Linked DNA regions of Homo sapiens. The protein of the gene in region 2 purifies or fractionates together with the protein of the main gene of each other region. This does not show direct contact. Each region holds a gene or a part of one and is shown on either strand. Other genes may lie near its edges. The genes, in order: TRIM24, ZNF74, IPO8, TIMM50, SAV1, SMARCAD1 and LRP4.

Region 1 (4,229 bases), on a different chromosome or scaffold from region 2:
GCATGATCTCGGCTCACTGCAAGCTCCGCCTCCCAGGTTCACGCCACTCTCCTGCCTCAGCCTCCCGAGTAGCTGGGACTACAGGCGCCTGCCACCACACCTGGCTAATTTTTTGTATTTTTAGTAGAGACGGGGTTTCACCGTGTTAGCCAGGATGGTCTCTATCTCCTGACCTCGTGATCCGCCCGCCTCGGCCTCCCAAAGTGCTGGGATTATAGGCGTGAGCCACCGCGCCCGGCCACAGTCACATCAAACTTTCAATATGAACCTTTCTGAAGTCAATAGCACCTGCGCACATACTTCCTCAACTTTTTTTGTATTGGTAACGTCTACTTATTTACTTGAAGTCTGGACCTATAAAGAAAAATAAGTACGGAAAATGTAGCAGGGAGAGATGTCTTTATTTCAAAGTTTTTTTTCCAACAGCTTCGGAAACATGCCTAAAACTCCTGAAATACAGAAAATTAACAGAAATCACCCTAAACATCCCAGTGGTAAGTAAAATAGATGAGAAAAGAAAGAAGAAAGAATACCTGAGAAATGAACAGAAGTTTTGGGCCACTTACTAAAATGTACCTACATAGGATCAAAGCATTCAGTATGTATTATTAAGATTTAAGGTTTAGATATTAAAAAGTACTGAAAAATGGTAATATAAGCTAGATTCTCATAAAATTCCAGAAAAGCATTCCACTGTGTAAACATGCAGAAAATGACATTAATACTTACAGTTAGAGGAACAGGGTCTTGAAAAGCCAGGCTCATTTCATGGCAGTAAAGAAATAAAAGTAGGCGCTCACACTTCTAAGCAAAAATAAATAAAAACTGAGATAAAATATTATAAAACAATGAATTCACAGCTTATTTTAAATAACAATCTCAGAGGTCCCAAAGTGTCAGACTAAAAATTAAAACCCAGATGAATACAAAAAAATTACTGATTCTCGGAGTTTTGCTCTCCTTCCCAATATTTGGGAACAGGCCCTGTAATTGAATGAACTAAGACAATCACTAGAAAACCATTTGAAGTTTTCTAACAATAAATTTGCACTTATTGCTCCAGTCTGTGTATTATAAATTAGTAATAGTCTATAAAGGAAGAACGTACGTCTCTTAGGAGAACTGGAGGTGGACCTTCTCAATATGCATCCAGACCTAAGGCACCTTTCTGCATGCCGAAGGTCCAACCATGTGCTCTGCTATTCATATACTTCCCTGCTTTATGGGTTTATCCCAGTAACCACTGAGTAGTACTGGCAGTGAATGGGCACGTCCCCTCTTGCATGACAACTTTCATATTGACTGTTCTACTTAATAATTTAGCAAAGGAGTTTTTTTGGTAACAAAGTGTTGACTTGGTAGCTTTAAATGTTATTTACAGTTAAATATATCAGTTGGCTTTGATGCATAAGTCTAGTCCCATTCAGTGAAAAAAAAGGAATTATTTCCAGGAAGAGTAAAGAAAAAACCCAGCTCCTTGGTGGCAGTTCTAAGGAAAAATCTTATCTATAGTAGGAAATAAAACAAAATAGAAATTTACTTAAGGTAGATTAAAAGTCTAGGGTACATATTCCATCTTGTTCAGGTACAATAAGCTTCTATAAAATACATGCATTAATTCTGTGATTTTTTTAATTTAAAGAAAGTTACAGTCTTTAAGATTCATGTACCTTTGTAAACAAAAAAAAATACTCTTAAATAAAAAGGATCAGTATAAAATCTGGATGGATATACACCTCTTTGACAAAAGGTACCACAGTACAATATTGCACTACAATACAATAATGCATCTTACCAAAGACTTACCCTTTTATCTATAGGTGTTAACTTAACAAGGCCTTCAGTTTTCTTTTTTTCTGAGTTGTGACTGGGAGCATCACAATCATATTCAACTTCTGGTTTAGATAAGTCTCGGCAGAAAGTGCAAATCCACTCTCCACTGTTAGGGGACAATGTACTTTTGAATTCCTAATGCATCATTTCCTCTCTTCACTATTTCCCTTTCCCACCTCCTCCATGACATCTATGATACAGAATTGTTCATTTGGCATGAATTTTAATCACTGAGCATTTACCACATACCACTAGGTATACTGCACCATGCTGAGAGGAAACAGCAGAAATATAATGCAAGGGCCTAACAAACATCAAAATCTAGTTAAGAAGGTGTGAGATACATATATTGAAAAAAAAGAAACACCTAAACAAATTTAATCTAGGGCTCACATATCTAGGGCATAATTGAATTTTTTTCCTCCAAAGGATTCAGGAACTAGAAAAGCTCTTTGTACTATTCTTGTTACTCTTAAGTTTATAAAATTAAATTTTCAAAAGTATGGCCTTCCAAGAACTGAGAGATCAACCCAATGGCTCTTAACCATCTTGGTCATGATGATGATCATCATCCCCATAGGGTATGAGAATTTACTTGAAATACTTGTAAAAGATACAGTTCGATGCCTGGCAAAAAGACATAATAAACTGTGGTAGCTGTTATGCATAGGGACATTGTTCCTTATGATGATCCCTTGTGATAATTTAAAGGGCCTGTTATTTTTTTTTCTTTTTGTAATGACTAGGGAGAGGGTCTTGCTCTGTTGCCCAGTCTGGGGTGCAGTGGTGCAAGCACAGCTTACTGCAGCCTTGACCTCTCAGGCTCAACCAATCCTCCCACCTCAGCCTCCTGAGTAGCTGGGACTACAGGCATGCACTACCATACCCGGCTAATTTTTTATTTTGTACAGACAGACAGGGTCTCCCTGTGTTGCTCAGGCTGAATGATTAGTTTTTTGAAAGAAGCACAAAGAATAAGCGGAAGGGTATGGGAAAACCTAGACTATTCATTGGGATTTTGGAGTATACACTTGTGCCAAGTGGAATTTCATTTAAGTTTTTTCAAAGGCTTTCTGTTAAAATAATCTTCAAAAGTTTACAGTAAAAGAATGTGGGAAGGGAAGTACTATCTTACCTTGGAAAATTTGTCAATGTGGGCACATGACAAGAAAGATGGAATACTTTGGGGCACTTTTCACAGCAGAGGAGTTCCCCTCCGTTTTGACAAACTGCACACCAGTCCTCATTGGGGTCATCCTCTTTCCTTGTCTCTCCAACATGAAGAGGTGACTTCTGGGAAGGATCCAACCATTCAGACTTTCCATTTGAGGAATTGTCCTGGTGAAGTCCAGGTTGATCTCCTGTACTATCAGGGGCATCTGATCTTAGCACAGTCTCCTCAGAAGTAGAGCTCTGACTGCTATTTAAGAGCAGGGAGGTGAGTATGCTTCTTGGATAATTGGCCTGTAGTAGAAAAAAAATATATTTAACTGGCTTTAAAAAAAATTTTATCACTAATGCAATTCTGAACTGTAGACCACTCTCTGGTGAGCACCTGGCTGCTTCAAAGGAATCTTCAGGAGAAGGGTATATGTTTATTGCTAACTGGCTTAGAAGACATGAACCTCTACTAAAAAATACCAAAATAAATAGAGAAAAAATCTAAGTCTGGGGATGGCTACAGAAATTAGAGAATGGGTTGGGTAGAGTGGAAGTCAACCACATGACCTATATATATATATATATACCTCACTGGAGCTGTTCATTCAAATTATACCTAAGATACAAAAATTATAAGATGAATCTAAACTTTCTGTTGAAGCCCAGGATGGTGAAAATTTCAAATCAATAACAAAAACAATCTCCTTCAAATGTTTTCAAAAATTTCAAAGTAATAAATGTAGATATAGTTAAAAGCACTTATTCCTTGGAAGAACTATTTTCAAACCTAGCTTTTTCTTCTGCTGTTTACCTCCATATTTCTAAATAAAATGATTGTTAAAAATTGCAATACATCTATAATCCTTACTAGTGAAGATCAGGAGATTAGGTTTTTACATTCTGATTCTCCAACCCCGTCCTGCTTCCATTCGTGCGTGCGCGCACACACACACACACACACACACACACACACAAAACCACCACCACCACCATTCACCCCATCCCTTTAACTTAGTTTTGATTAAGCATTGATTGTTTTAGTTGGTAGGTACTGGTATAACTGTTTATTGCCAGTATCTATTCTAACTGATCAGTATTTGTCTTGTACTGGTTAAGTATTCTGAAAATCACAATTTTTGGTTAAGTGCATATTCAGGTTATATCCTGATTGCATCACAGTTTTTAGTTACATTCGTACTCAGGTGTTTGTTTACATCATTATTATTATTATTTAA
Region 2 (4,229 bases):
GCCAATTCCCAGCCCCCCTCCCTGCCCCTGGTCCCCGAATTCAGTCATGGTCAGTGTCTACAGCACAACCTTCTGGCATGGGAGAAGGTCACCTGAGGTTAACCCTTTACTTGTAGGGTCCTTAATCAATCTCTGGCTCCTTTGGAACCATGGACACAGAATCAGTCCTGGGTGAGAACCTATATGTCATTTCAGGAATCGGTGAGTTTCAAGGATGTGGCTGTGGACTTCACCCAGGAGGAGTGGGGTCAACTAGACTCCCCTCAGAGGGCCTTGTACCGGGATGTGATGTTGGAGAACTACCAGAACCTTCTTGCCCTAGGTAAAATCCCCCCAGCCCCAGGCTGGGCGTCGGCTGTCAGCCTTCTTCTACATGGTAGATATTAAGGAGAATCCCTTCAGTGCCGGCCCTGGTGCCAGATATATCATGGGGTGGGAAGCAAGGCCTGTGCCTTGGGGCACTCATGGCCAGGGGCCTCGGCCACGCCAGAAGTCCCCAAGGGACAGCGTGGGAGCTGGTAGCATCCTTGCTTGGTGTTTCCCCTGGTCCTGGGATAGGGGCAGGGAGAGAAGAGAAGAAGGTGGGACCCTGGAGCCCAGCTGGCTCTGGAACAGTCCTCAAGCAATGAAGTAAGGACGTCAGCACACGTGGGGTCTTCAGAGTATACACTGGGATTTGGGTTCCAGTCTGAGACCCTCACTGCTTTTGGCCCAGAGGACCTCCTGTTCCCAGAGAGGGTGTCCACTTCACAGGCATTGTCCTTGTTAGGGGGCGGCCTGTAAGGTCGACTGGGCCTGGAGAGCTGCAGCATGCCCAGCCCACTTTCTCTCCACGAGCAGGACCTCCACTGCACAAGCCAGATGTGATCTCTCATCTGGAACGAGGCGAGGAGCCATGGAGCATGCAGAGGGAAGTCCCCAGAGGGCCCTGTCCAGGTGAGCAGAGGCACAGGTGGAAGGGTGCCAGCCCCAGCACCCCTGGTGGCACCTCCTCCTATGGCCCCTATTTTCCTCCCTCAGTTTGCCCCGGCTCCATCTCCCCTTTTCAGGTCCCCCGCCAGACCCTCCTGCCTGCCTCCCTTCAGCACGTACTGAGCACTGCCTGTGTGCTGAGACCTGTTCTGGGATACAACAGGGAACAAACCTGGCCACTGGGACCAAATGGTCACCTGCTGATGGGGATGGGGAGGCAGGAATAGAAATATTGAGCCATTGGTGTTGGCTGGGCAGCCGGGGGTGTGGGATTGGGGGCAGGGGGCCACCAGGGAAGGGGCAGCTGGCGTTGGTCAGTGTCAGGGTCAGCATGAGCATCAGCATCAGGGCCAGCGTCAGCGTCAGGGTCAGAGCCAGCATCAGTGTCAGGGCCAGCGTGAGCATCAGCATCAGGGCCAGTGTGAGCATCAGTGTCAGGGCCATCATCAGCGTCAGGGTCAGAGTCAGCATCAGCATTAGGGTCAGCATCAGCGTCAGGGTCAGGGTCAACGTCAGCGAGGGCTTCCAGGCTGTGGCCAAGATGGCAGCCCTCCGTAAGGGAAAGGGGACTGGGGTGGGTGTTGAGCAGAAGGTAGTCTGCTTTTCTTCTCCAACATTCTTTTTGTAGACTTCTCTTCTGAGTTGGTTGATAAATAAGTGGTAAATTCGGCTTAATTTATTGGACAGTGACTGCTGAGCATGTTAGGTGTCTAGAAAGCTCGAGAAACACCTTTCTGTGGGAAAGGCAGCCGATAAGCTGTGGAGCACAGAACACGGGGGTCGGGGAAGGCAGCCCCTCCTCCATCCCCCTCCACTGCCACATACCACCCAGCCCCAACCTGCAACAGTGGCTGCAGCCCCAGCTTTCTGGTCTTTATTTCTCACCCCAGCCTCTGATGCTTGCTTTGTCCTCTTTAACAAGATTACAGGTTTCAAAAAATTCATATTTTTGTTTGATTCATATATGAATATACTGAAAATGAGGCTGAAAGGTTACTGAAATCCTGCATAATCTTTCCACCCAGAGATGACGGTTCTCTAATAACTGACCATGTCACTGATTCCTCTGGGCCCTTCCTCTGTGTGCGGATAGACTTCTAAAGCTACATGTGGCCAGGCGTGATGGCTCACACCTGTAATCCCAACACTTTGGGAGGCCGAGGCAGGCAGATCACCTGAGGTCAGGAGTTCGAGACCAGCCTGACCAACATAGAGAAACCCTGTCTCTACTAAAATTACAAAATTAGCTGGGCATGGTGGTGCATGCCTGTAATCCCAGCTACTTGGGAGGCTGAGGCAGGAGAATCGCTTGAACCCAGGAGGCAGAGGTTGCGGTGAGCTGAGATCGTGCCATTGCACTCCAGTCTGGGTAACAAGAGTGAAATTCCATCTCAAAAAAAAAAAAAAAAAAAAATTAGCTGGGCGTGGTGGTGAGCACCTGTAATCCCAGCTACTCTGGAGGCTTAGGCAGGAGAATTGCTTGAACCCGGGAGGCAGAGGTTGCAGTGAGCCATGATCGCACCATTGCACTCCAGCCTGTGTGACAGAGCTAAACTCCATCTCAAACAAATAAATAAATAAAGCCTTATGCACCCTCGGAAGCACAGCACTCACGCCGGAGTCTGGCTACCACACTGGCCATGGCATAGTGAGCGTCCTCACGTGATGTTTACTGATTGCACAGTATCCCTTAGATGAATGTGCCCTGCTGTGTTGTTGGCCCTATTGCTGCCAAAACAACTTTTTTCTGGCCTGGGCCTCTTCTCTCTGCTCTGTGCAACTTCCCTAGACTCTTACCTCTCACTTGGTGTGGATGTGGTCTACACTATAGCAACACCAGCTGAGCTGCAGCCCTGTGTCACTGACCATCTCGTGGGCCTCTGCTTGCATGTCTAAAACCAGACTTGGAACTGGCCCTTCCTCCTCCTTTATAAAAGCTTCCACCATCCACCCAGGCTTGGGTGTTTGCTGAGGTCTCATCCTCTCCCCCATTTCCTCTCTTGCCACCTTCAGTCAACAGCTAGGGCCATCAGTTTTAGCACCTAAATGGCTCTTAGATCTGCTGCTTCCTGTTCATTTTCACAGCCTTGGTTCCAGTCTGAAGTTGCCATTTTTCACCTGAATTATTCAGATGGCCTCCCTAACTGGCCTCCCTAACTGCTGGCTCCAACCACCTTACACACCACCAAAGCCACCTTCAAGACAAACCATTATGCCAGGCACAGGGACTCACACATCTAATCCCAGCACTTTGGGAGGCCAAGGCAGGAGGACCACTTGAGCCCAGGAGTTGGAGGCTGCAGCGAGCTGTGATTGCACCCCTGCACTGCAGCCTGGACAACAGAGCGAGACTGTGTCCCCGCCCTCTGCTTCCCCCGCCCCCCGTCAAGACACCATATGATCACATCACCCTCTGTGCAAAAGGCCTTTCTTCCCCGGCTGCCCTCTGAGTCAGGCATCTGGTCACCTCGAACCCATCCACCTTGCCAGGGTCACCTCTCAGCCTTCCTGCCTCTGCGTGTCTTGTCTTCATCTTACTGTCTCACCTCTGAGCTTCTGCACATGCTGTTCACTCTCCACCTGGCTACCTGCCATGTGTGCCATGGCCAGTTCCACTTGCCCTGCTCTTCTGCATGTGTTGGGGCCACAGGCAGCACCACCATGCAGCTCTGCCCGCTGCACTAGACTGCTCCCTTTTAAGCCTGGGGAGGACAGAATTAGAAATAAAATCTCCTGCCAGCTCAGAAAACCTTGCTATAGAGATAGAAAAGAAAGAAAGCCTTCTTATTGAATAAGTGTTTAACCAGATGTGGTGTACAGGAGAGAAAGAAACCTCCCCCTTTGACAGAGGAGACACATCCAACCCAGCACACAGGGCAACTGTCTTCACCTAAAGGAAGAGTACAGCTTTTTGGGTTTTGTTTGTTTGTTTGTTTTTTGAGACAGGGTATCCCTCTATTGCCCAGGCTGGGGTGCGGTTGCATGATCATAGCTCGAAGCCTCAACCTCCCTAGGCTCAGGTGATCCTCCCACCTCAGCCTCCTGAGTAGCTGGGACTATAGACAGGTACCATCATTCCTGGCTAATTTTGTATTTTTTGTAGAGGGGTCTCACTGTGTTACCCAGGCTGGTCTTGATCTGGGCTCAAGTGATCCGCCACCTTGACCTCCCAAAGTGCTGGGATTACAGGTATGAGCCACCGCGCCCAGCCTCTTGTAGCTTTTTGACAAGCAGGAAGTTACATCTTGGACTCGACT
Region 3 (4,229 bases), on a different chromosome or scaffold from region 2:
TCTCCCATTTCCCATCTCCCATCACCCCTACTTTGTATGAGCCACATCTGTATTAGAAAGAATCATGTTCAGTATCATCCATTTCTAGCTTGCATCACAGAAGGGGTTTCTACATGATGACAGGACTTCCGACAAATTTGGTAAACCTGAGTTTTAGGAAACTTGAATAAAATCCATATTCTGAATTTATAATTTCTGTACCTATTTTGAAAGAATGCTTTTTATTTATTCAGCAACTCACTTATAAGCTTGATATGGTGAAGAGCTCTGGAGACCAGGAATTGGAAGGCAACTTACTGTAGTGAAGAAAGTTGCCTAAAGGTCCTTGAGCCAGTTCAGAGGTGCTTTGGCATGGCTTTTTCCTTATAAATAATTTTTTAAATCAGTTTTTAAAAAATCAGTTTTTAAAAAATAACTTCTCAGTTGTGTTGTGTTTACAAATACCTTCTTTTATAATCTGAGATTATAAAAGAAAATTCTCCCATGTTTTCTTTAAGGAATCCTGTGCTATCATTTTTTGTCAGTGTTAAAATAGTTCCCCATCTGAAGTTTATTTTGGTGTGAAGTTGAGGGAGTTAATTTAAATTTTTTCAGGGGGCTAATCAGTTATGCCAATACTATTTTTTGAACAACTTTTCTCTTCTAATTTGAAGAAGTCTTTATGAAATAAAGAAACATCTTTGTGCTGTCTCTTGTTGTATGGAAGTTTTTAATGTTTCTTTAGTCAGATCTGTTATTGTAATTTTTTTTTTTTTTTTTTTTTTTTTTTGAGGCAGAGTCTCGCTCTATCACCCAGGGCTGGAGTGCAGTGGCGCGATCTCGGCTCACTGCAAGCTCCGCCTCCGGGGTTCATGCCATTCTCCTGCCTCAGCCTCCCCAGTAGCTGGGACTACAGGCACCCGCCACCACGCCCGGCTAATTTTTTTGTGTTTTCAGTAGAGACGGGGTTTCACCGTGTTAGCCAGGATGCTCTCGTTCTCCTGACCTCGTGATCCGCCCGCCTCGGCCTCCCAAAGTGCTGGGATTACAGGCTTGAGCCACCGTGCCCGGCTCCTGTTATTGTAATTTTTTAAACAGGAGTTTTAACTTACTTTGAAGAGCTAGCAGTGGAATAGAAATTTAGACTTTGCCTGGAAGTTACAATGAGACACCGTTTAGTTCAATATAACATGGACCTATCTAATAATTAAAGCTGTTTATCTGAGCTTTCTTACAAAACATTGATTTTTCTCCCAAATCTGTTTATTTTTCTATGGATTCTGAATTTTAGGTCATGCCAAAAATGGCACCTCCCCCTTTTAACCTTATAATTGTTTATGTTAGTCTGTATTTTCTGTTTTCTTATAGGTGCTACTAAAAATTTTAGATCAATATAGACAGAAAGAATATGTAGCTCCCCGTGTTCTTCAGCAAGCATTCAACTATCTCAACCAAGGGGTGGTTCATTCTATAACCTGGAAGCAGATGAAGCCACACATACAGGTTAGTGTCAGAGAGCAGCTCTCCAAAATTATTCTCTGGTTAAATTAGGTTTTCTAGACAAAGTTAGTATTACTAATCCTATATTTTACATTTTATATATATACATTTTACCATTAATAATTTCTAATGAGTGAAGTCCTATGTCAGATATAAAGGGCTTAGAAATTTAAGCATTTGAGAAAAGTGAAGCCTTCAAGTTTTATGAGTCGGGAGACCTGGATTCACTTGATCTTGCTTAATCTCATTAAGCCTCATTTTCTCCTCTATTAAGGCACATAGTGTTTTTCTATTCTTATCTAAAAGTTGCTAGGATTAAATGAGGTATTTTGTGAGAAAGTATTTTGAAAACTTACCAGGGCTCTACTAAGGTAGTGTTATTTTGCAGGAATTGAAGACTGATATGTGACCGTTTTATTTTGTAGGTATGAGCAAGGTTTTTATTTATTTTCTTGGATTGTTAAGTTCAATAGCATCATTGTTTCTATATCGTTTGCCTAAAGGTAGAATTCAGTATTGTTATTTAGCTAAAGAACAAATGGGAATGGAAAATTATAGGCCACTAATAAATAAATACTTCCTTGTATACAAATAATTGGATAATTTGACAGTCTTAGGAACTGAATACCTACTCTCTCCCAAACTGTGAATTCTTAAATTTTATAAATGATATCTGAAAAGAAAAATCTTTCACTTTGCTGTTTGCTGTCCAGGATAGAATTTTAGTGTTATTACCCGTCTTACCAACAGATATCTTTTCTTTGATTTATGTAGATATCTTAATAACTATTTGCCTAATCACTTTGATCAAATAGTGATAATTTCTTTGCAATTAATTAATAAAGATACTGATTTCATTTGCTGTGTTCCTGTAAAGTAAGGGTGAGTTGTGATAACATTTCTTCTCTACTTCATACCTTTGGCTTTATTTTTACATAGCTGTAAAGTAGGAATAAGAAAACGCTGATCCTTAGGCTGAATTTTTTCACTTAGAATTATTTAATTTGGAATTAAGTGGTAAGAGATGATCCTGTTTTTATATAAATTGTTGTTAGAGCCTAAAAGGGCTTAATAGGACATTAGTAGCAGTGCACAGAGAGGCTAGTAGATAGGACTTTTCTCTAACTGAAACATTTGTGGAGTAGGAAATTAGTTTTTTTGGGAATAGAAGTAAAGAAAATTCCAATTTTTTTTTTTTGGAGCTGGAGTCTCACTCTGTTGCACAGGCTGGACTGCAGTGGCATGATCATGGCTCACTGCAGCCCTGAGCTCCTAGGCTCAAGAGACCCTCCAAGATGGACGCCACCATGCTTGGCTACGTTTTTATGTATTTTTTTGGAGATGGGGTCTCGCTACAGTGCCCAGGCTGGTCTTGAACTCCTGTCCTCAAGCGATCCTTCTGCCCTTGGGCTTCCAAAGAGGTAGGATTACAGACATGAGTCACCATGCCTGGCCCTTTAATATTGTTAATACATGGACATTTAGGACTAAAATGGAAATGTTAAAAAAAATTTCAAAATAAGAACTATAATAGTAAATATAACCTCGACTTGACATTTTACACACACACAGAGTTTGGAAAACTAACATCATAAAGGCTGTCAACAAGTACATTATTAGTATTCCTCAAACTTGAATAGCCTATACCCATTTGTTACGTTTTTTTTTTTTTCTCATTTTAGAATATCTCTGAAGATGTGATTTTTTCTGTGATGTGTTATAAAGATGAGGATGAAGAGCTGTGGCAAGAAGATCCATATGAGTATATAAGGATGAAATTTGGTAATTGAGATGGTTTTATTTCTCATCAGTTCCTGGATATGTAAAGTAATATAACTAAATTTATATTTTTAAGCAAATGTTATTACTTTATTAAATCTCCCAGGTTCTGTTTTGCATGACATAATCTGAAACTTTGAGAGTTTGATGTTATTTTGTTGAACTAGAGAACTGGAGATTGTCGGATGTGGGAGATGAAAAGCCACCTCATTCATCTCTCTTACGGGTGCTCAAGTTGAGCCATCTGTTACTTATGCTGTTGCGATGCTGATCTGCAGGGACCATCCGTTTTTGTGCCTTTTGGGAGACTCATTTATAGATTGGGTTGTTCTCATGTGGGAAATACTTTGGATTTCTGCATATTTTAGGGGTACCCCAATTTGGTTTGCTTGCTTGTCTGAGAGACTAAGTGTTCCACAAGGGAAATAAATTTCGTATGGGGGCCCTACTGTGTGTGGTCCAATTCTTTGGGTGTCCTTTTAACTTGGATCTTCCTGGAAACTGTTGAATTGTGTAGGTGGCCTGATTTATTCCCTTTTATTCCCAGTTTGTATTAATTGCTTCATGGAACACTCAAGCACTTAACATAGCAAAATATTAATTTGCATACCTATCTCCCACAACTTAGAAGCTTTCTCAGGACAGGAATTTTACCTTATTTGCTTAATTTTGCATTTTCTGTCTCTTCTACACCTCTGCATTCCTCCACTAGTGCTTGGCCTCCAGTATGCCTTCAATACATGTTGAAAGAAATGATTGCTAAATCTAGCGCTGCGTGCTGAAAGTGCTGTAATGAAGCAGTGCTTTCCCCTTAGTTGAGCCAGGTGTGTCTAGCTACGTAAGCTAAACCTACTGGTACAGATGCTAGTTTTTTGGGCTGTGTTTTTACAGAGCTTTGTGTTTATATTATTTGATTCAGTAAGTGAGGATCCTGTTTTCTCTTGGAGACAAAGTATCAGAAAAGCAAATCA
Region 4 (4,229 bases), on a different chromosome or scaffold from region 2:
TAGTGTTTCTGGGAAGGTTTGCTTATAGTTGTACATATGAGACTGGTTGGGGTTTGTTTGACCCGGGCTCTGTTACTGTGGCCAGTGCTGTATTCAGGAGTCCGGATCTGCGAATGGGCCTCTGTGGGTCTGGCTCCAAGTGTCTGTGTGTCTGTTGGTTTCTGTCTGTGTCGTGTCGGGGTGGGGGTTCTGTGTTGCTCTTGGAAATTCCAAAATACGTGGGCTGTGATCGAGGGTCTTGAAGGGTCTGTGTCTGGGTGCCTGTCTGTGTGGTTCCCTGGGTGTGGCTGCAGATCTGTCTGCACCTGTTTACTTGAGTGAGAGGTTCTTAAACCTGCAACATACCACAGTCACCTGGGCAGGGGTTAAACACGAGAGTGGCCACCTCCCTCTCCAGGGAACTTCCTAATCACCTCTCTGTGTGCTAGGCCCTGGGTCTAGAAGTCTATGTGATTAGCTCCCCAATATCCTGGGGGTTGTTTTGTTTTTTGTTTCTGAGACAGGGTTTTGCTCTGTCACCCAGGCTGGAGTGCAGTGGTGTGATGAACATGGCTCACTGCAGTCTCAACCTTCTGGGCTCAAGCGATCTTCCCACCTCAGCCTCCTGAGTAGCTGGGCCTATAGGCACACACCACCATGCCTGGCTAATTTTTATTTTTATTTTTATTTATTTATTTTTTTTGTGAGACGGAGTCTCGCTCTGTTGCCTAGGCTGGAGTGCAGTGGCGCGATCTTGGTTCACTGCAACCTCCCCCTCCCAGGTTCAAGCGATTCTCTTTCCTCAGCCTCCCGAGTAGCTGGGACTACAAGCACACACCACCACACCCAGCTAATTTTTTGTATTTTTAGTAGAGACAGAGTTTCGCCATGTTGCCCAGGCTGGTTTTGAACTCCTGAGCTCAGGCAATCTGCCCACCTTGGCCTCCCAAAATTCTGGGAGTACGGTCGTGAGCCACCGCACCCGGCCATTTTTTGTATTTAGTAGATACGGGGTTTCACCATTTTAGCCAGGCTGGTCTTGAACTCCTGACCTCAGGTGATCCGCCCGCCTCGGCCTCCCAAAGTGCTGGGATTACAGGCGTGAGCCACCATGCCTGGCCCTCTGTGGGGGTCGATGCCATCATCCAAAGCCGGTCTTTGAGAGGCCCTGCCATTGTGATCCCAGTATGTGTGATGCTGTGTATGTATGTATGTTTTGTGTGTTTTGGGTCTTCTTGATGGGGGGAGAGTTGGGCACAGATGTTGACCTGATCTGTCACTCACTTCCAGGATATTTCATGTCTGAATCGGGACCCAGCTCGAGTAGTAGTTGTGGACTGCAAGAAGGAAGCCTTCCGCCTGCAGCCCTATAACGGCGTTGCCCTGCGGCCCTGGGACGGCAACTCTGATGACCGGGTCTTGTTGGATCTGTCTGCCTTCCTCAAGAGTAAGGCTGACCCCTGATCCCTTGGCCTCTGACCCCAGAGCCCCTGACTCTGAAGAGGAAGGATAAATGCATGATTCATGGCTGGGCGACTGAGGTGCAAGAGGTGCCTGAGCACCTTGGAGTCTTTAGGAGCTTCTTAGGATGTTCATGGAATGTTTGGGGGATACTTGGGGATGTTCAGGGGAGCCCTTTCAGAGCGTTCAGAAGCATTCCAGGTAGCACTGACTGCCCCCGTGCCCCAGTGCGGGACGTTCCCCTCATGGGCCCTGCCTCCCTCTGGCCTTTAGAAGCCTGGCTGACCACCCCCTGTTGTGCCCACAGCCATTGCACTGAATGGTGTGGAGGACGTGCGAACCGTGCTGGAGCACTATGCCCTGGAGGATGACCCGCTGGCGGCTTTCAAACAGCGGCAAAGCCGGCTAGAGCAGGTTGGTGCTCAGATGCCCAGAGTGGAGGATCGGCTCTGAGGCTCCTGAAGGAGGAGCCTGGGGCAGTCCATCTCCACACTCTTGGTTTGGCTGTGTGACCCTGAGCAGATACCTCCTCTCTGCCTCAGTCTCTGTAACCAGGGGGATATAACACAGCCTGTCCTGTAGGGCTGCCAGAATGAGGGGATGCATTGATTCTGCAGCCTGCTCTGAGAACAGGAAACAGGAGAGGATTTGAGATTAGGCTGGGAGAGGGGTTGCCCTTGATGGTCTTGAGTAGGTCTGGGGGCACCTTGTGGAGGTGGATTGTGGGTTTTAGATCAGGCCTGGAAAGAGGCTCCCTGGGCACGTGGCCCAAGGCTGTGGGGAGAGATGTGATAGTCTTGGTGGGACCCTGGTAATTTGGAAGTGGGACTGAGAGTATGGATTGCGTCTGGGTAAGATTCCCAGGGGTCTAGGCTGAGGTTCACCAGATTCTAGGTTAGGTTCCTAGAGTTGGGAGCCCCTGAGTGCCCAGAGAAGTCCCTAGAGATTTGGGCCTGGGGACCCCCCAGGGAACCCCCCACCCCTGCATCCAGAGAGGGGTCATGGGGCTCAGAGGGCCCAGGGGCAGGATGATGCAGTCTGGTGAGGAGGGCCATGGGGTTTGGACCTGGGATCTCACCAGCATTCACCTTGGGGTAACAGGGTCTGCGATAGGATCTCAGGCTCAGGGGAGGGGTCCCTGGGATCTGGGGAAGGAGATTATGACAGTCTGGGGCCTGAGAACCTACTGCAGTTCAGGCCTGAATACCTCGAGTGCCTAGTATTGGAGTCTGTCGTCCCCCAAACATTGAAGCCTAGGCTCCTGCGGCTCAGAGCTGGCTCTTCCTAGTGTCTGGGGTGGGGGGACTGGGGTCTAGGGTCCCTTGTGTCTGGGCTGGGGGCCCCAGGGTTTGGGGAAAGGGGTCTGGACTTGGCAGAAGTCAGAAGGAAAGGTGGTCCCTGGGCTGAGGCCTGGGGACCTGGGCATCTGGGAGGAGGCTCTGTCCACCTTGCGCTGACCCTCTCCTCCAACTGTCCCCCTACCCCAGGAGGAGCAGCAGCGCCTGGCCGAGCTCTCCAAGTCCAACAAGCAGAACCTCTTCCTTGGCTCCCTCACCAGCCGCTTGTGGCCTCGCTCCAAACAGCCCTGAACTCTGGGCCTCCTCAAACTCAGTGCCTGGGTCCAGGGCCCCAGTGCTTCCAGACCAAGACTTGGGCCACCACTTGTCCAATAAAGTACATCCCAGACGCCACACCTGCTGTGTCCCGAGAGTCTCCAGATGGGGGCATCAGGGTGAGGTCCGGGACTCTTGGGTCATCGTCCCACAGTGGCTGATCGGCTGCCAAGCACAGTGGGGGTGCTTTGTTGGATCAGAGCAGATTTTTCACCCTGGTCTCGGAATCTAAAAACCCTCGCTGTGTCTTCCTGTGTGTTGCGTGATCTGTGAAAAATACATCTCCCTCTGACCACAGACTCCTCATCTGTGGAGAAGGGAAGAGAGGATGGCACTTGGCTTTAAAGACAGGTAGCTGCCAGGCTACTGTGGAGAGAATGTGTTATGGGCCTAGTGGGCCTCTGGTGGACCAGAGATTACCCCTCTCAACAGGCCAGCTGCTGGTTGGCTCCAGCCAGTGTGGCCCTGGGGTAAAGGGGGCCTGGAGTTGCTTGACACGCCAGTTGTTCAAAAGAAGCAAGAACTTGGGAATATTTTTTTTTTTTTTTTGAGACAGGGTCTCACTGTTGCCCAGGCTGGAGTGCATTGATGTGATCTTAGCTTACAACAGCCTTGACCTCCCGGCTCAAGTGATCTCCAAGTGACCCTCCTGCCTCAGCCTCCTGAGTACCCTCCTGGGGACTACAGGTGCGTGCTACCATACCCAGCTAATTTAAACAAATTTTTTTTTTGTAGAGATGGGGTCTTGGTGCCCAAGCTGGTCTCAAACTCCTAGTCTTAAGCAATCTTCCTGCTTTGGCCTCCCAAAGCGCTAGGATTCCAGGTGTGAGCTACTGTGCCCAGCTAAAATAGGGATTTTTATATTAAATCTCCCTATTTTAAAATGTTGGCTCCTAGCGGGGCGCAGTGGCTCACGCCTGTAATCCCAGCACTTTGGGAGGCTGAGGTGGGTGGATCACCTGAGGTCAGGAGTTCAAGACCAGCCTCAACATGGAGAAACCCCATCTCTACTAAAAATACAAAATTAGCTGGGCGTGGTGGAGCATGCCTGTGATCCCAGCTACTCAGGAGGCTGAGGCAGGAGAATTGCTTGAACCTGGGAGGCGGAGGTTGTGGTGAGCCGAGATCGCACCATTGCACTCCAGCCTGGGCAACAGCAGCGAAACTCCATCTCAA
Region 5 (4,229 bases), on a different chromosome or scaffold from region 2:
ATTTCAAAATTTACATTTTTCTCTGGACATACATTTAGTAATAAATGACTTTAATAAGTTAAAAAAATACTTTTCTCTTTAAAAAAACCTCAAAAACAAGATCATTGTTCTTATGATCAGATTCTGCTGTAGTAATGCCAGAATGTTTTTGTTATAGGTGTCCAGAAAATTAAATAATTAAAGCTTCTGCCTTCTTACACTTAAATTTTTACAAATAATAACAGACCTACCCCCTAAGTCAGAATGTACAATTGAATTATAACATTTTGCTGTTTATTCTATTTCAGACATGATTGTATGTTCTGTTTCTTGCTATTACTAGACAAGAAAGTGAAAATTGGGACTGAACAAAACATCCCATTTCTGTTTAATAAATATAGCCAGTAATTCTTTGTGCTGTTTTGATTGATACTGGGCTGGGTAGATCTGCTTTGTTGCCAGACTTTTAGCCCTGTGCTGCCTGATAGCCAGTTGTCACGTGTGGCTGTTGAGCCCTTGAATGTGATTAATATAAATTGAGATGTGCTGTAAGTGTAAATACACACTGGATTTCAAAGTACATAAAAGCTAGTATTAGTTTAGTAATGAAGTTGCAAATATTTCAAATTAACCACATTTGAGCTTCAAAAGCTGAGCCACAAGATTAAAAATGAGTAAAATATCATCTGCATTTTGATAAATGTTGCTTAGTGTCATCTGGCATAATACAGTTTTTTGGTTATAGTGGACATTTGTATTTTCTTAGAACCATTAAAATAGTTATGAAAATGTGTTTTAGGATTATCAACTGGAAAACTAAGCTTTATCATTATTGTGTTGTTTTAATTATTTTATGTATTTGGATTTATTAATTCAACTTTGAAAATCTGTTTTTTCCCATGATTCCATGTAGTGGCACCCAATCAGTGTTTATTCAACTACTGAGGTTGTTGTCCTTTGAAAGAATCAAACCTGTGGTGTGGTCATCAGGTGGCAATGATTGTTGCAGTCCAGATAACCAGATTTGAGAGTTTACTTTTCTGTTCGTTGACATGGTTTGGCTCTGTGTCCTCACCCAAATCTCATCTCAAATCGTAATCCCCATGTATCAAGGGAGGGACCTGGTGGGAAGTGATTGAATCATGGGGGCCATTTCCCCCATGTTGTTCTGGTAGTGAGTTCTCATGAGATCTGATAGTTTAAAAGTGTGTGGCAGTTCCCCCTTCTTTCTCTCTCCTGCCACCACGTAAGATGTGCCTTGCTTCCCCTTCATCTTCTGCCATGATTTAAGTTTCCTGAGGCCTCCCAATTATGGAACTGTGGGTCAATTAAACCTCTTTTCTTTATAAATTACCCAGTTTCAGGTAATTCTTTATAACATTGTGAAAATAGACTAATACAATCATCATTAACCTTATGTTATTACAGAATTTTAATAGTTTTTTAAAAGCAATTTCATAATTAGTTAATTTACTTCTCTCAGCAACTTGGTAGAAGTTGAACAAGAGAGAATAAACGCTGCCCTTAAGCTCACATATGTAGTATTACTAGTTGTCTGGTTGTCTATCTTAGGCCAATCCTTATACAAAATTCTTGACTTACATTAGGTCATTTAATCCTGAGAACAACCACCTGTGGTATGAATTTATTATTCCACTTTTACAAGTATGGAGGCTGAGGCTTAGGGATAGGAGGAGTTTTGCTTACATTTACATAGTTTGTAAGTGTTAAAGCTGTGGTTCAAATCCAGGCGTACCTGACTTCAAAGTCCCAATTCTTCTTCACCCCCAGTTGTACTATCAAAGAACATTTTCCTTTGAACCTATTTAGGAAAGAAGAGTTGAAGATAGAATTCAGTTCCATTTGCATATTGATCTTTTAAAATTGTTAACCACAGCATAATCTAACCTTATTTTAATCCCAGTTTAGTAAACAGTGACCTTTTCTAATATACACATGCATTTTTTTCTCCCCATTGTTATATATACACCACATTTTCTTTTTTTTCTCCCTAACTTTTATTTTAGGTTCAGGGGTACATGTGCAGGTTTGTTACATGGGTAAATTGCATGGCTTGGGGATTTGGTACAGATTATCACCCGGGTAATAAGCATAGTGTCTGATAGGTAGTTTTTCTTTTCTTTTTTTTTTTTTTTCTGAGACGGAGTTTCACTTTTGTTGCCAAGGCTGGAGTGCAGTGGCGCGATCTCAGCTCACCTCAACCTTCGCCTCCCAGGTTCAAGCAATTCTCCTGCCTCAGCCTTCCAAGTAGCTGGGATTACAGGCATGCATCATGAAGCCTGGTTAAGTTTTGTATTTTTAGTAGAGACGGGGTTTCTGCATGTTGGCCAGGCTGGTCTCGAACTCCCGACCTCAGGTGTGAGCCATCACGCCCGGTCCCTGATAGGTAGTTTTCAATCCTCATGCTTCTCCCATCCTCTGCCCGCAAGTAGGCCTCAATGTTTATTGTTCCCTTCTTTGTGTCCATGTGTACTCAGTGTTTAGCTCCTACCTATCAACATGTGGTATTAGTTTTCTCTTCCTGCATTAATTCACTTAGGATAATGGCCTCCAGTTCCATCAGTGTTGCTGCAGACTACATGCTCTTGTTCTTTTTTATGGCTGGGTAGTATTCCATGGTGTCTGCATACCACATTTTCTTTATCCAGCCCACCATTGATGGGCATTTAGGTTGATACCGTATCTTTGCTATTGTGAATAGTGCTGCAATTAACATGTGCACACGTGTTTCTTTATGGTAGAATGATTTCTATTCCTTTGTAGAAATAGTCCCATTAATGGGACTGCTGGATTGAATGATAGTTCTAAGTTCTTTGAGAAGTCTCCCAACTGCTTTCCACTGTGACTGAACTAATTTATGTTCCCACCAGCAGTGTATAAGCATTCATTTTTCTTTGCAACCATACCAGCATCTGTTATTTTTTGACTTTTTAATAATAGCCATTCTGATTGATGTGGAATGGTATTTATTTCATTGTGCTTTTGATTTGCATTTCTCTAATAAGCAGTGATGTTGAGCATTTTCTCATATGCTTGTTGGCCACATATACACATAAATCTTTATGTTTGAAGGTGCAGACCCCTTTTGGTCTCAAATAGACCCTTTTGGCCGCTTCGAGTTCAGCTATTAACCTTCAGGTGGTTCAGTGCTTTCCTTACACTTTCCCATATAATATCTCCACTCCCCACAGCATACACAGGCTATTAGAACTAAAGTATGGTCTTTTTTTTTTTTAATCTCTGTGACTTAAAATAGGTTCTGATCAACTCTGACTCCCATATGTTCTCTTGAGTTGGTAAAAGTTGAAAAGTTATCTGCATTGGATAGAGATATTTCAAACACAATACTCACTGCTGCGTCACTACATATCCTAACCCCCATTTTCAGCCTACGGGAGGAAGGAAACATCCTTTCTTAGAAACTGTCAACCTTTCTGATATGAATTTACAGCTGATGACTATTTCTTGTGGGAATTTACTATTCTAGTTTTAAGCCTTTGTATAAAGGTTAAAACTTAGTTCCAGCTTTTTCATATCCTCCTTTGAACCTGTTTTTGAAAAGACTAAATACCAGCCAGAAGAAATATCTTAAAAATACATTACCTTTCAGGTGGTGTAAGTCAGTTTGGACAGAAGGCACACTGAAAAATGCTTAAGTATTATTTGTTCTTTATAATTTCTTGTTTAGATTTTAAGACCTTTATCCTAAAGAATGTCACTCCTTTCTTCTTAGTGTACCTCGGTATGATCAACCACCTCCTGTCACATACCAGCCACAGCAAACTGAAAGAAATCAGTCCCTTCTGGTACCTGCAAATCCATATCATACTGCAGAAATTCCTGACTGGCTTCAGGTTTACGCACGAGCCCCTGTGAAGTAAGTACATTTACAACACAAATTTGTTTGAGGAGTGAGTGAAGGGCTGAATGGAGTCTCTGGGCTGCTCGATCCAAGTAGTGTGCCATATTTTACTCTTAATAATATTCGGCTTCTAAGTAATACGTGACTTGAATAAAGGATGTCATAGTTTATAATGTGTGAAAATCATTAATTAGAAATATTAGTTCTTCAGACATTTATAGAATCTTCATTTCTTTGTGTGCGGGCCTCTGCTATTAGGGATACAAGTAAGAAACTTACATTCTCATAGGAGAAGATTAATTTGTAAATAAGTGATACAGTACTTGTGATAAAAGTAAGGACCTGGGCTTGGCACAGTGGCTCACAC
Region 6 (4,229 bases), on a different chromosome or scaffold from region 2:
CAATTTAAGAGATATCAATAACAATGGTCTTAAGGCAATTATCATTGTATTTTGACTTGATCTGAAAATTATCATCATCAGTCAGAAGAATCCAAACTGTTTCTTTTTGTTTCTGTGAACATTGACATATTTATGTCTTTAAGGATGAAAAATATTGCTGACTTAAGATCACTGAAAGACCCTGATTGCATATCCGGTAACTCAAACTTTATTCTCAGTGCTTAAAATGAGATAAATCTCCTAAAAAACTAGAATGATCCTCAAATTAACTCAATATAATTCAAGTATACTGATGCCTTCTCCAAGACAACGGTAAATTTTAAAAGGATACAAATATCTCATCTATGTTCACTATTATATATCCACCTATAAATTTCAAATTCTGAGAAGAGTTTACTTTTACTTCACTCTTGATTCACAGAATGGCTTAAATATTAATTGTTCAGTCACAACATAAAACTGAAACAATGATAAAAGGAATTTAAGTGGAACTAAATAATGTATAAACCGAACAGATTAATTAATATGAGAATTGTGGCTATACATAGTCTCACTTTTCCTTCTTCTCTGTCACTTAACTTCACTTGAAGAAACTGGTTAAAGTCCACATTTAAGCAAAAAGAAAAGACTCCTTGTGTTCATGCATAGGAAAAATTTTAGTCAATCAAAAAGCATTTTTCTACTCTGCTTAGAACTGCACCACATGCTATACACACAAGATGGAGAAAAATACAATCTTCTTCTTCAACCTCCTTTATTATCCAACAACTGAATTGCTATTTTTCTCTTTCAGTACCTTAGATAGAAATAACTAAATTCTGATACCTCCTCTGCACAATGGAGTAAAATAAAATTTCATAAAACAGAGACCAATAAAATGCTATGGATATCTGGACTAAAGAAGAAAATTGCATGTGTTTCATAATACTAAGTGGTCTACTTGGGCTCAAATGCAGAGAATGTTAATAGGTTACAAGGATGAAGAATTAAACCAGAGCTAACATGGAATAAAGCCTAAGGTTAGTCTTTTTTAAGAAGCAACAGGATTTTGAGCAGGGGAATAATAAGACATACTGGTGAAACCCATCTGGAGAAACCATTTCAAAATCTTCAAAATTCATACTGCCACCTTTACAGCCCAGGCACACTGAAATTCCAAGAACAGTATTTTAAAGCTCACAGATGGACAACAACCAGCTGAGGAGGGAACAGATCCAAGTATCTAACTCTAGACCACTGCTTTTTCACTACATAAGTGAAAACTAAACTTCAGTTGTTCATTTGTTAATATATCAAATGTGCGTCATGGACAAATTGTGGTAAACACATAAAATGGAATATCACTAAGTCATAAAAAAGAATGAAGTACTGATACACACCACAACATGAATGAACATTGTAGTATATCTGAAAGCATTATGCTATGTAAGAGGCTAATAAAAAAGAACAAAATCATGTTCTTCGCAGCAACACAGATGTAGCTGGAAACCATTTCCTAAGCAAGCTAATGTGGAATCAGAAAAATCAAATACCACATTTCCCACTTATAAATGGGAGCTAAACATTGGGTACACGTGTTCATAAAAATGAGAACAACAGACACTGGGGAACACAAGAAGGCGGAGGGAGGATGTGGGGGAAGAGTTAAGGAAAACTACCTATGGAGTACTATCCTTACTATCTGGGTGACAGATTCATTCATACTTCAAACTTCAGCATCACGCAATATACGTTTGTAACAAACTTGCACATGTACCCCAATTCTAACATAAAGTTGAAAAAAGAAAAAACAAATAAAACACATTTTTCTGAAATTAAAAAATAAGAGGCTAGACATAAAAGGTTACATATTATATAATTCCACCTAAATGAAATGTTCAGAATAGGTAAATCCAGAGACTGAAGGCAGATTGGCGGTTGCCAGGGGTTAGGGGGAGGAGGGAATGGGGAGAAACTGCTTAATGGGTATAGCATGCTATTACGAGGTGATGACAGCGTTTGGAACTAGACAGGAATGATGGTATACAACACTGTGAATGTACTAAATAGCATTAAATAGTTCACTCTAAAATGGTTAATTTTATGCTATGTGAATTTCACCTCAATAAAAAAATACATAAAATATCTGGAAAACAGTAAACAGCTCTTCGGAATCAAATATTTAGTAGATGGTGTGCCTATCATGTGTTGTTTGCTCTTGGGTCCCACACTTATGCCAGCTCTGCTTATCCCTGGTGACTGAATATACTCATGTGGTCCAGGAGGTTACACAGACACTTTACAAAAGCTAGCTGATAAAATTTGGGACTGTATCTGTCTCAGCGGGCCCAAGGGATATGATTCGACCCAGTGCTTATTTTTCCATCTCCAGAATCATAGTTGGAACAGACATATTTGGCACTGGCAGAAATCCCATACTATATCAGTTCCCTGACCCATGATGTATGGGCTACTATTATAGGAAACACCAAATCCAAGTCCCTAGAATTGTCCCTCTCAATCAAAACAATAAGCAATTACTACAGTCCTAAAGGAACTGCAGATATTGACACCACCATCCCATCCCAATGTAAGATGCCTCCTTGACCTATACAAAAAGTAGATGAGTCTTGCAAGTATTTAAGAGTATCATAAACAATCAAACTCCAGCTGCAGCTGCTTTACAGGATGTGGTATTTTTGCTGGAGCAAATCAATATGGCTATGCAGTTATCAATCAAGTACTTGCTTTTTCCCCTTTCCCAATTAGATCAAACAGAAACAATCCGTTTTTATCTTGGCAGGTTTAATGATATACCTTCAGTCTTCAGAGTTAGAGTAACTTTCCTGGCTCTCTCAAATAATACAGTACTCATGGACTTAGATGGTTTTGCACAGTCTAGAGAGTATCACTTGATCCACTATACTGACATCATGTTGACTGGACTTGATACAGGTAGTGGGTATTTTCAATGGTACTGGTCAGATACGTACATGCCACATATCAGGGTGAAGGAATAACCATCCTCACTCTGAGGCCCACCACTTTCGTGGGAGTGTAGTCTGGAGCATGTTGCAAACTCCACTCTTAAGAAAAAAGAAAGGCCGCACCTATCTGCCTCTTTAGACTGGACATTGGGAGCTCACTGCACACTGGAGGCAAGATATACTTCATTAGGGTGTGTACTGCTTGATTCATTTTATAAAATACCTCTTAAGATTGTCAGTTATGGCTGGGCACGCTGGCTCACGCTTGTAATCCCAGCACTCTGGGAGGCTGAGGCGGGTGGATCACGAGGTCAGGAGTTTGAGACCAGCCTGGCCAACACAGTGAAACACCGTTTCTACTAAAAATACAAAAAATTAGCCAGGCGTGGTGGCAGGCACCTGTAATCCCAGCTACTCGGGAGGCTGAGGTGGGAGAATTGCTTGAACCCGGGAGGCGGAGGTTGCGGTGAGCCAGGATCATGCCATTGCACTCCAGCCCAGACAACAGTGCGAGACTCCATCTCAAAAGAAAAAAAAAAAAAAAAGAATGTCAGTTATGAATGGGGCCCAGGTTAAGAGACGGCTCTGTACCAGGTCCAGAGTGCAATACAAGGTACTCCGCCACTTGGGTTTCGTGACCAGCAGATGCAATGATTCTCCAAGAATCTGTTGCAGGTAAGGATGTTGTATGAAGTCTTTGGCAAGCCCCAGTGGGAAAATCGTTTTAGAGAGTTTTAAAGAAAGGTCATCATGTCCTCTTCTACTGACCACAGTCAGTTTTGCTGTGACACATATATTTCCAAAAATTACTGCATTATGCAAAATTGTTAAAAATTGCAGCCTTTAGGAGAAAAACTGTTAGAGATACAATGTCAAAAACTTCATCAGTGACATATAAAAAGAGAAGGCAATCTAATAAAAATGATACAATTTTACACACATTAAATAGTTAATACCTAAATACTACAATAAATATGAGCTGAAGTTTGCTTGTGGACATTGGAAGAGTTACAGCTTACGAGTTATTGTAAAGTGGCAAAAAACAGGTTATCTGAAAATGAATGGAAATTTTTAACACCAGATACAGAAGGTTGTAGCTCACTGTCCTTGTGTTATGTCTGCTGTACTAACTTAAAATATAAAGAATAAATAAAATTTCTGTGGTGTTGCCAGCCTCCTCCTTTTACACTAAAGCTGCCTGTACGGTTCCAAATTCATCCGGATGCCACACAAGACTATCCTAATATCTTCAGCAGTAAAGCC
Region 7 (4,229 bases), on a different chromosome or scaffold from region 2:
TATTACTGTCTTTTTTTTTTTTTTTTTTTTTTTTTTTGGTTTTTTAGAGGCAGGGTCATGCTGTGTCACCCAGGCTGGAGTGCAGTGGCACAATATTGGGTCACTGCACCCTCGACCTACTAGGATCCTGAGTAGCTGAGACTACACGCATGAGCCATAACGCCTGGCTAGTTTTTTTCTTTTTTTTTGGTAGAGACTTCCTGTATTACCCAGGCTAGTCTCAAACTTCTGGCCTCAAACGATCCTTCTGCCTCAGCCTCCCAAAGTGTTGGGATTATAGGCACGAGCCACCATGCCCGGCCCAATATTACTGTCTAATCATAGTCCTTGCCCAATTTCACTACCAATTGCCTCAGTGATGTCCTTTATAGCTCCTCCCACCCCACTTTTTTTCTTTGTTAATCTAGGATCCAATCAGGATCACCCATTGTGTTTAGTAATTACGTCTCTTTTAATTTTTATTTATTTATTTATTTTTAGACACTCACTCCGTGGCCCAGGCAGGAGTGTAGTGCCACAAACATGGCCCACTGTAACTGCGACCTCCTGGCCCAAGGGATCCTCCCACGTAGCTGGGACCACAGGCACCTACTACTGCACCCTAGCTACTCAGGAGCCTACGGGTTTGAGGCCACTCGGCTGATTTTTTTATTTTTTGTAGAGATGGGGGTCTCACTTTGTTGTCTAGGCTAGTCTTGAACTCCTAGGCTCAAGCAATCCTCCTGCTTTGACCTCCCAAAGTGTTGGGTTTATAGGCATGAGCCACCACACATAGCTTTTTTTTTTTTTTTTTTTGAGACTGCAGTCTTGGTGTGTTGCCCATGCTGACCTGGGCTCAGGTGATCCTCCCATCTGAGGCTCCTGAGTAGCTGGAGCTGTGCGCCACCGGGCCCAACTAATCTAGTCTCTTTACTCTCTAATCTGGAACATTTCCTCAGCTTTTCTGTGACTTTATTGACATTTGCATTTTTTGTTTGTTTGTTTTGTTTTGAGACAAGAGTCTTGCTCTGTCGCCCAGACTGGCGTGCAATGGTGCGATCTCAGCTCACTGCAATCTCTGTCTCCCGGGTTCAAGCAATTCTCCTGCCTCAGCCTCCCAAGTAGCTGGGATTATAGGCACCCGCTACCACGCCCAGCTAATTTTTGTATTTTTAGTAGAGACAGGGTTTCGCCATGTTGGCCAGGCTAGTCTCGAACTCCTGACCTCAGGTGATCTGCCCACCTGGACCTCCCAAAGTGGACATTTGCATTTTTAAAGAGTAAAGGCCAGTTATTTTTTATAATGTCTCTCAACTTGGATTTATCTAATGTTTCCTTGTGATTGGATTCAGAGTGTGCATTTGCAGCAGGAATACTACACTAAGTGAAGTCATGTCCTTGAGTTCTCAGTGTGTCTCATCAGTAGACACAGGTGTTGGCCTGTTCCGTTATTGTGATACTTACTGCCATTGTATGGTTAAGGTAGTGTCCACTGTAAAGTTGCTATTTTTTAATTTTGTACTTAATAAGTAATTTGTCCAGAGATACTTTGAGATGATGTGAGTAATAGATGACTTCCAACATCTTCCAATAAAACCATCACACGACCCTTAGAGCCAGGCATGATCAAGTCACAGATTGATAGAGCAAGGCTCAGAGAGATTTTATAAGTAGCTCTTACTGGAGGTCACCCAGTAGGTGTTAGTGGGAGAGCTGCTTTCTGAGTCCACAGTGAGCTCTTTGCCACTGCTCTGTACTGTCAGACTTTGTTGAAGATGACACAGTGTTGGGGCCCTGGCAGGTGCTGATTGGAAGCCAGCTCCCCCACCCATTTGGGCTGACCCTCTATGGAGAGCGCATCTATTGGACTGACTGGCAGACCAAGAGCATACAGAGCGCTGACCGGCTGACAGGGCTGGACCGGGAGACTCTGCAGGAGAACCTGGAAAACCTAATGGACATCCATGTCTTCCACCGCCGCCGGCCCCCAGGTGAGCAGCCCTTGGCTCGCATTGGCTTCTCCGTGGCCCTCCTATGCCCTAGCTCTCCCCATTGAACATCCCCTCCTCTCTACCCAGTGTCTACACCATGTGCTATGGAGAATGGCGGCTGTAGCCACCTGTGTCTTAGGTCCCCAAATCCAAGCGGATTCAGCTGTACCTGCCCCACAGGCATCAACCTGCTGTCTGATGGCAAGACCTGCTCACCAGGTGAGTGAAAGCATCACAGATCTAGATGCAGCCTCTCTGGGAGGGGGCAATGGCTCTCTTCCTTCCTTGCAGATGGGCTCCAATGTGGTCTGAGAAACCATGAGTCCTGCTGCTTCTAGAGGCCCAGGGGAGAGACTCACGGCTTTTAGAAAAGGGGACGGGCCTGGGGAGAGGCCCTGGGGAGCAAGTAGAAAGGACTGGAGGCAGGGTCCAACTAGTTCTTATGATGTCTTCATGCATATTAGATAAAGATGCTCCTTTCTCAAGACACTTTCCTCTCATCTCTTAGTACATTGTCATAATATACTGATTTGGTTGGAATAAGACACTTCTGGCTGGGCACGGTGGCTCATGCCTGTAATCCTAGCACTTTGGGAGGCCAAGGCAGGCAAATCACTAGAGGTCAGGAGTTCAAGACCAACCTGGCCAACATGGTGAAACCTCGTCTCTACTGAAAATACAAAAATTAGCCAGGCATGGTGGCGCGTAATCCCAGCTACTTGGGAGGCTAAGGCAGAAGAATTGCTTGAACCTGGGAGGTGAAGGTTGCAGTGAGCAGAGATCACGCCACTGCACTCCAGCCTGGGTGACAGAGTGAGACTCTGTCTCAAAAAAAAAAAAAAAAAAAAAAAGACACTTCTAACTGCCCAAAATTGGTATAATAAAAACAGAAATGTATGATATCTACAATGTCACAGTACCCTCCTCCTTAGATGTGCCACTTTTGTGAGTGCACAACCTATGTGACAACCTTATTGGAGGGTCCCAGAAGCAGTACCTGGCTACCCAGATGTCGGAAGTCAAGGCTTCTCCCTAGGAGATGCTGCAGGGTAGGCTGCATTTGAACTCTAACCTCCCTGGGAATTTGAGTGAGAAAGGAGCTGTGAACTGTGCCTCTCAGGTTGTGAGTAAAGCCCCCTGGGGTCCCTTTATTCCCTTTCTTTTTTTCTCTTTCTTAATCTTCATGGTAAAGGGTCCTTCAAAGAGAGCCACTTTCATAATATTAATAAAGAGGCATTATTTATGAATATGTGTGAGACCTAATGGTAAGTGCTTTATGTACATGATCTTTTAACCCTTACAGCCACCCCATTATTGTCCCCATTTTATAGATAAGAAAACTGAGGCCTAATAATTTAAGCTGAGAGTAGTGGCTCATGCCTGTAATCCCAGCACTTTAGGAGGCTGAGGTGGGCAGAGGCTTGAGCCCAGGAGTTTCAGACCAGCCTGGGCAATATGACGAAACCCCATCTCTACAAAAAAATACAAAAATTAGCTGGGCATGGTGGTGTGTGCCTGTAGTCCCAGCTACTCAGGGGGCTGAGGTGGGAGGATCGCTTGAGCTCAGGAGGTCAAGGCTGCAGTAAGCCATGATCATGCCAGTGCACTCCAGCCTGGGCGACACAGCAAGACCCTGTCTCAAAAAATAATAATAATTTAAATAACTTGCCTAGAATAACATAGCTAGAAACTAGCAGGGACAGGGCATGAGTTTCAGTTTGCCTGATTCCAAATCCATTTAATGGCTGTGCTCGAGTGATCCTCTTCCCTCCTCTCCACCTGGCAGGCATGAACAGTTTCCTCATCTTCGCCAGGAGGATAGACATTCGCATGGTCTCCCTGGACATCCCTTATTTTGCTGATGTGGTGGTACCAATCAACATTACCATGAAGAACACCATTGCCATTGGAGTAGACCCCCAGGAAGGTCTGTATGGCCCTCTCTTCCCACCTGGCCTTCTGTCCCTGCCCTTCAACAATTACTGTCTTTCCTCTCCCACCACCTTTGTCTCCTGCCAAGAGCCAGGGTGTTTGTTCCCCATTCCCTCTGGCATAGCCCCTGTCCCTGTCTCTCTAGCACTCTCTCTTTGGTTGTGAGAGCATGGTTTGGGGCCCTCTTCTCTCCGTCTCTGCCAAGAGCTATCCTGCTATGATATTTCTGCGTTTTCCTTGATTTCCTCTGCTAGAGGCTCCAGAGCTCTCTGACATGCTCTGGTGTTTCAAGACATGAATCAGCTGTGTGTGTCCCATTGTAGGCGG

The links.
Region 1: the proteins of ZNF74 (region 2) and TRIM24 purify together in Homo sapiens (co-immunoprecipitation; one large-scale study listed by IntAct). This does not show direct contact.
Region 3: the proteins of ZNF74 (region 2) and IPO8 purify together in Homo sapiens (co-immunoprecipitation; 2 studies listed by BioGRID and IntAct, with this or other methods). This does not show direct contact.
Region 4: the proteins of ZNF74 (region 2) and TIMM50 purify together in Homo sapiens (co-immunoprecipitation; one large-scale study listed by IntAct). This does not show direct contact.
Region 5: the proteins of ZNF74 (region 2) and SAV1 purify together in Homo sapiens (affinity purification with mass spectrometry; one large-scale study listed by BioGRID and IntAct). This does not show direct contact.
Region 6: the proteins of ZNF74 (region 2) and SMARCAD1 purify together in Homo sapiens (co-immunoprecipitation; one large-scale study listed by IntAct). This does not show direct contact.
Region 7: the proteins of ZNF74 (region 2) and LRP4 purify together in Homo sapiens (affinity purification with mass spectrometry; one large-scale study listed by BioGRID and IntAct). This does not show direct contact.

What each region holds. Positions count from the first base shown.
Region 1 is NC_000007.14:138,578,272-138,582,500, reverse strand, and holds part of TRIM24 (transcription intermediary factor 1-alpha), read right to left. Parts: intron 3,298-4,229; coding exon 2,969-3,297; intron 1,940-2,968; coding exon 1,807-1,939; intron 805-1,806; coding exon 730-804; intron 1-729. UniProt on the Homo sapiens protein: Transcriptional coactivator that interacts with numerous nuclear receptors and coactivators and modulates the transcription of target genes.
Region 2 is NC_000022.11:20,400,437-20,404,665, forward strand, and holds part of ZNF74 (zinc finger protein 74), read left to right. Parts: intron 1-195; coding exon 196-322; intron 323-840; coding exon 841-936; intron 937-4,229. UniProt on the Homo sapiens protein: May play a role in RNA metabolism.
Region 3 is NC_000012.12:30,668,215-30,672,443, reverse strand, and holds part of IPO8 (importin-8), read left to right. Parts: intron 1-1,347; coding exon 1,348-1,482; intron 1,483-3,161; coding exon 3,162-3,261; intron 3,262-4,229. UniProt on the Homo sapiens protein: Involved in nuclear protein import, either by acting as autonomous nuclear transport receptor or as an adapter-like protein in association with the importin-beta subunit KPNB1.
Region 4 is NC_000019.10:39,486,792-39,491,020, forward strand, and holds part of TIMM50 (mitochondrial import inner membrane translocase subunit TIM50), read left to right. Parts: intron 1-1,269; coding exon 1,270-1,426; intron 1,427-1,747; coding exon 1,748-1,854; intron 1,855-2,927; coding exon 2,928-3,029; 3' UTR 3,030-4,229. UniProt on the Homo sapiens protein: Essential component of the TIM23 complex, a complex that mediates the translocation of transit peptide-containing proteins across the mitochondrial inner membrane. Has some phosphatase activity in vitro; however such activity may not be relevant in vivo.
Region 5 is NC_000014.9:50,640,398-50,644,626, reverse strand, and holds part of SAV1 (protein salvador homolog 1), read left to right. Parts: intron 1-3,733; coding exon 3,734-3,877; intron 3,878-4,229. UniProt on the Homo sapiens protein: Regulator of STK3/MST2 and STK4/MST1 in the Hippo signaling pathway which plays a pivotal role in organ size control and tumor suppression by restricting proliferation and promoting apoptosis.
Region 6 is NC_000004.12:94,245,399-94,249,627, reverse strand, and holds part of SMARCAD1 (SWI/SNF-related matrix-associated actin-dependent regulator of chromatin subfamily A containing DEAD/H box 1), read right to left. Parts: exon of another isoform or gene 1,075-4,229; intron 1-1,074. UniProt on the Homo sapiens protein: DNA helicase that possesses intrinsic ATP-dependent nucleosome-remodeling activity and is both required for DNA repair and heterochromatin organization.
Region 7 is NC_000011.10:46,876,867-46,881,095, reverse strand, and holds part of LRP4 (low-density lipoprotein receptor-related protein 4 precursor), read left to right. Parts: intron 1-1,780; coding exon 1,781-1,970; intron 1,971-2,057; coding exon 2,058-2,189; intron 2,190-3,756; coding exon 3,757-3,897; intron 3,898-4,229. UniProt on the Homo sapiens protein: Mediates SOST-dependent inhibition of bone formation. Functions as a specific facilitator of SOST-mediated inhibition of Wnt signaling.